Regions from separate parts of the Homo sapiens genome. Here region 1 is linked to region 2. Evidence: fine-mapped expression QTL. Tissue or cell type: cerebellum. Region 2 holds a variant in brackets; the other region holds the start of a gene. All regions are shown on one strand. Distances are between the middles of the regions.

Region 1 (2,899 bases), 160 kb after region 2:
AACGCACCGTGGGCGCGGAGGGAGTGGGGCGGGGCGGCGGGGAACGCACCGTGGGCGCGGGGGGAGTGGGGCGGGGCGGCGGGGAACGCACCGTGGGCGCGGGGGGAGTGGGGCGGGGCGGCGGGGAACGCACCGTGGGCGCGGGGGGAGTGGGGCGGGGCGGCGGGGAACGCAACGTGGGCGCGGGGGGAGTGGGGCGGGGCGGCGGGGAACGCACCGGTGGGGTTGCCAGGGTTGATGACACAGAGCGCACGAGGGCGGCAGTGGTCACGCGCCTGGCCCAGTGCACGGTGAAGCTCGGCCACGTCCAGCGCCCAGGCACGCTCCTCGTCCAGGTAGTAATCCACCTGCACTGCGCCCAGCTCTGCCAGCGTGGCCGAGTAGAGTGGGTACTGGGGGATGGGGATGAGCACACCCGTGCGTGTGTGGCCCTCGCCGGCCACCAGCAGCTTCAGCACCGTCTGCGGAAAGGAAGGGGAAGGCAGGGTTGGCGAGGCCTGGGGCCGCACCTGTCCCCCACCCTGGGCGCCCCCTCTGCAGTGTCAGGAATGTCTTGGTGCCCATGCCCAGCCTACCACGATGGCATCGCTGGCCCCTGTGGACAGGAAGACGTTGTTGGGGTCCGCAGGGATGCCTCCGTCACGCCTCTCAATGTACCGCGCCACGTCCTCCCGGATCAGCTGGATGCCGGAGCTGACGCTGTAGGCCCCTGGACTCGGGCAGGACAGGATGGGAAGTACAGGTGAAGTTCTCCTCAGCCCTCCCAAGGGACTTCCCTCCTCCAGTGGCAGGGCGGCCCTCTGCTTCCTCCTGGCCCTGGCTCTCACCCAGACTGTGGCCCCCACACGCCTGCAAGATGCGCTCCGCCCTTTTCTTGGCATCGTCAGGGAAGTTGGGGCTGCTCAGAAGATCAGGGTTAACACAGAGGGCCAAGACCTGGGAAGACGGAGTGCTGAGGCCAGGGCACATGGGCTGGGGGTGGGGGGGTGCTCCGGGCAGTGCAGGAGCCTCACCTGGCGCAGGAAGGTGATGGGCCTCTGCCCCATAGCCTGTGCGTCCCCGATGTTGGCACGGATGACCTCGGTGAAAGGCTTCTTCACACCCTGGGAGGGGAGGGGAGCAGGCAGGGAGACTGTGCCCTACCTAACCCCTCAGCCCTTGTCCCATGTGCCAGTGGGGCTGGGGCCAACTCGGCCACCCCATTGTGACCTGGAGGGCAGCGAGGGGCCCTGGGCCATACCTGGCGCAGCTCCTGCTCCAGCTCCAAGGCTCGCTGCACTATGGGGCCACGCACTGCGTACTCCACTCTCCGCACACGCGGGTTCATGCCGTCCAGCGTCAGCACCTTCGCCCTCAGTCCATGCCTCACCGCCTGGCTCCGGTCACCTGTGCTCGAGGCCATGACTCTACCCAGACCAGGCGGGAAGGCAGCTCAGGAGGTGGCAGGACCAGAAGTGGGAATGGCGACAGCTGGGTCTGGCTTAGTGGGCCAGGGCTGGGAGGGGGCAGCCGTAGCAGAGGGAACTCCAGGCAAGAGAGCACCCTCTTCACCGCAGCTGGCCTCACTGGGAGGGACAGAAAGGGCTGAAGGAGCTGGGGACAGTTGGGCCCCGCCCCACCCGTCTGGGAACAGCTCTGCCCCAGGGAGGCAGAGGCAGTGGGTGAGGTGGCAGGCGGGGCTTGGGGCAAGGCCCAGTGCCTGCCTAGTGTCCCCACGAAGGGAGAGCAGGAGACCCACATGGGGGGTAGGTACAGACGTCAGTCCGGACAGCTCTGAGGGACTAGACATGGGGGGAGGGGGAGAGGGCTGAGCACCTGGGGTGCTCAGGAGGTGAAGGGGTGCCCAGCAGCCCTGAGGGGCTGGCAGAGCTGGCAAGGAGGGACCCCCGAGGCGAGACTGGAGCCTGGGCTGCTGGGATTTACCCCAGCAGGGCTTGGCCGAGGCCTGGCCCTCGTGGCACCCGCATCTTTGCTTGGGCCAGCGGACCTGTCTCCTATTAACTGAGCCAGGCCTCAGGAATCCAGGGGGTGCTGGGGGGAGGGGAGGGGTGTTCAGGCTCTGGGTTCCATCTGGACCCTCCAGAGCTGGCAGCTATGGCCCAGAGGCTGCAAGAGCTCTGTAGCTGGACCTTGGTCCCTGATGAGCACTGCGAGGGGCTGGGGGAGGGGGCTGGAGCCAGGCAGTCCAGCCCTGAGCCCTGGGACAGCTCACACCGTGGCTGCTGTCATGCCCTTTCACCAGGCACCAGCTGGGGGTTGCCCTTGGGACACACCCGAGGCTAGGGGTGACCTGAGCTCTCCAGCCCTCTTGTTCCCGATTGGAGGAGAGAGTAGGAAACGAGCTGGGATAGGCCGTCAGAGCCCCACCTCCACAGGCCTGCTGAGCTGAAAGGCCAGGCTCCACGCTGGCCCACCCCAGCGTCGGGCACCGAAACCTGAACCATGGGGGTCAGGGAGCCGGCCCTCTGAGCAGGGCTGTGGGCAACCAGCCAGGCCCAAGTCGGACCTTGGCTCCTCTGATCCTGCTGGCTGGGAGAAAAGCCATCGGGAGCCCTGGACAGCCGGCCCCCAGGCCTCTCACCGTGCACGTCTCTGTTCCGCTGCCACAACAGCCTCCCCGTGCGCAGGCCTGCCCCTCTGGCCCCCAGGCCGGGGCACAGGTTAACATGGGCCTGGCCCCAGGCAGAGCCAGCCCCTGCCCGCCCCCTGGCAAGGGAGTCCAAGTGGCAGCCCTGGTGGCAGGTGGACCTTGGGCAGCTGCCCCACCCCCCACACTAAATTTAACCAGCAGCCAGCCCTGGCCCGCCCACAGCCCTGTGAGGACACCCTTCCAACCAGGGATGCTAGGGGAAGGGCAGGCCCAAAGGACACTGGGCTGACGGGCCCGTGCTGAGCCAGG
Region 2 (2,899 bases):
ATTTTCATTGCTGTTGGCATTGTTACTGTAATCTGATGCTTATGCTCTGAACACATTCTGTGTTTTTATATAATTTATACCTCAGAACAATGCATGCAGTGGGTGCTCTTGGTCCTGTTTCATAGATGAGGAAACCAAGGTTGGAGAGGGCTGTGACCCACCAGGGTCACACAACTAGTAGGCGGAGCCAGGATTCAAGTCCAGGTGCCATGACTCCTGAACTTTCCCTCTTACCACAGTCACACTTCTTCTCCTGTCCTGTCATCTCCGTGACCTTAGGGTGTAAACAGTTTGTTTATTGAGACTTAGTGTACACAGAAGATGTCCCAGGTGCCGGGACATCCCAGGGAGGAGGACAGGCCAAGCCCCTGCTCTCTTGGAGCTTATGTTCTCCCAGGGCAGGGAAAAGCAGACACGTGACATGTGACATCTGCAGTAGTTGGTAGGTGTCAGTGCTGCAGAGACAGGATGAGGGAGGGCCTGGAGATTGGGAAGGGGGTGGGGTCAGGTGGGCCTCAGTCACAAAGACACTTCATTTGGGCAGGTGAAGGAAGTAAACCACTTGTGGGGGAAGGAGTGCAGGCAGAGGGAATGCCCAGTGCAGAGGCTGGAGGGAGGGTCAGAGTGAGCCTGCAGTGCTGGAGGGCAGCCTGTGAGGTGGGAGCAGGAGGGCATCCAGGCTGCCTGGGGACAGGCAATGGGGGTGCGGGTGGGCTTGGAGCATCAGGGTGCTGCATCTGCCTTGTCTCTTTCTTTTTCACTTTGGGGATAAATTTTAATAGAATGTGAGTCTGAACTCTTATATTTAGAATAAACAAAACATTAAAATTGATTGGTTCGAAATGGTTTTATGGAAAAATTAATCTGTAGCAGAAACTTGGCCTTGCGTGCAAAGGTTCTACCATTTTTTGAGCAAAGTTTACAAAGGTTCAAAGGGACAGGACCAAGGAGGAGGGGCTTGGACATTTCCCACAGCAGGCATTTTATCTTCCTCTTTTTCACGGGAGGTGGGCAGAGGCCTGTTTGGGTCGCTTTGAACACTGTATTGGGGCTTTGCTGTGAGAACTGGAGCACTCCGGGTGTTGTCCAGCACTGATCGCCTTTAGCCATGTGTATTAGTCCATTTTCAAGCTGCTGATAAAGACATACCCAAGACTGGGGAGAAAAAGAAGTTTAATTGGACTTACCGTTCCACATGGCTGGGGAGCCCTCAGAATCATAGCGGGAGGTGAAGGTCACATCTTACATGG[C/T]GGCAGCAAGAGAAAATGAGAAAGAAGCAAAGGCAGAAGCCCCCCATAAACCCATTAGATCTCGTGAGACTTATTCACTATCACGAGAATAGCACAGGAAAGACCAGATCCCATGATTCGAGTACCTCCCCCTGGGTCCCTCCTACAACACATGGGAATTCTGGGAGATACAATTCACATTGAGATTTAGGTGGGGACACAGCCAAACCATATCATTCCACCCCTGGCCCCTCCAAAACTCATGTCCTCACATTTCAAAACCAATCATGCCTTCCCAACAGCCCCCCAAAGTCTTAGCTCATTTCAGCATTAACCCAGAAGTCCACAGTCCAAAGTCTCATTTGAGACAAGGGAAGTCTTTTCTGCCTGTGAGCCTGTAAAATCAAAAGCAAGCGAGTTAATTCCAAGATACAATGGGGGTACAGGTTTTAGGTAAATACAGCAGTTCCAAATGGGAGAAATTGGCCAAAAGAAAGGGGTTACAGGCCCCTTGCAAGTTCAAAATCCAGCAGGGCAGTCAAATTTTAAAGCTCAAAGTGATCTCCTTTGACCCCAGGTTTCACATCCAGGTCATGCTGATTCAAAAGGTGGGTTCCCATGGTTGGACAGCTCCACCTCTGTGGCTTTGCAGGGTATAGCCTCCCTCCTGGCTGCTTTCACAGGCTGACGTTTAGTGTCTGCAGCTTTTCCAGGCACACGGTGCAAGCTGTTGGTGGATCTACCATTCTGGGGTCAGGAGGATGGTGGCCCTCTTCTCACAGATCCACTAGGCCATGCCCCAGTAGGGACTCCAACCCCACATTTCCCTTCTGCACTGCCCTAGCAGAGGTTTTCCATGAGGGCTCCATCCCTGCAGCAAACTTCTGCCTGGGCATCCAGGCGTTTCCATACATCTTCTGAAATCTAGGTGGAGGTTCCCAAACCTCAATTCTTGACTTCTGTGCACCTGTAGGCTCAACACCACATGGGAGCTGCCAAGGCCTGGAGCTTCCACCCTCTGAAGCCGCAGCCTGAGCTTTATGTTGGTCTCTTTCAGCCACGATTGGAGAGGCTGGGACAGAGGGCACCAAGTCCCTAGGCTGCACATAGCACAGGGACCCTGGGCCTGGCCCACAAAACTACTTTTTCCTCCTGGGCCTCTGCACCTATGGTGGCAGGGGCTGCCATGAAGGTCTCTGACATGGCCTGGCGACATTTTCCCCGTGGTCTTGGGGATTGACATTCAGCTCCTTGCTACTTATGCAAATTTGTGCTGCTGGCTTGAATTTCTCCTCAGAAAATGGGTTTTTCTTTTCTACTGCATCATCAGGCTGCAAATTTTCTGAACTTCTATGCTCTGTTTCCCTTTTAAAGTGGAATGCTTTTAACAGCACCCAAGTCACCTTTTGAACACTTTGCTGCTTAGAGATTTCTTCTGCCAGATACCCTAAGTCGTCTCTCTCAAGTTCAAAGTTCCACAGATCTCTAGGGCAGGGGCAAAATGCTGCCAGTCTCTTTGCTAAAACATAACAAGAGAGTCATCTTTGCTCCAGTTCTCAACAAGTTTGTTATCTCCATCTGAGACCACCTCAGCCTGGACCTTATTCGTATCACTATCGGCATTTTTGTCAACCGTTCAACAAGTCTCTAGGAGGTTCCAGACTTTCCCA

Alleles and levels. Positions count from the first base shown, and alleles are read on the strand shown. Sizes are in standard deviations (SD) of each study's normalised expression.
With allele C in place of T in region 2, the expression in cerebellum of the gene that starts at base 1,567 in region 1 is lower (moderate effect, 0.55 SD a copy in GTEx).

The links. PIP is the estimated chance that this variant, and not a neighbour inherited with it, causes the effect.
Region 1: GPT starts here. The variant in region 2 is the best candidate, but not a certain one, in a credible set for the expression of GPT in cerebellum (GTEx, PIP 0.59).

Annotation. Positions count from the first base shown.
Region 1 is chr8:144,502,808-144,505,706 of GRCh38, reverse strand. GPT (glutamic--pyruvic transaminase) reads right to left here and starts at 1,567. Exons shown (of 11, transcript NM_005309.3): 1 at 1,241-1,567; 2 at 1,014-1,103; 3 at 828-936; 4 at 576-709; 5 at 218-461. The coding sequence starts at 1,402. LOC101928953 (a long non-coding RNA gene) reads left to right here and starts at 233. Exons shown (of 5, transcript XR_007061149.1): 1 at 233-335. RefSeq lists an enhancer at 1,259-1,919 and a silencer at 2,547-2,841.
Region 2 is chr8:144,664,989-144,667,887 of GRCh38, reverse strand. All of the region lies in intron 1 of ARHGAP39 (Rho GTPase activating protein 39), which reads left to right. Among named protein-coding and RNA genes, the nearest start is that of ARHGAP39, 19 kb to the left of the region's middle. The variant C/T (reference allele first, on the strand shown) is at 1,251.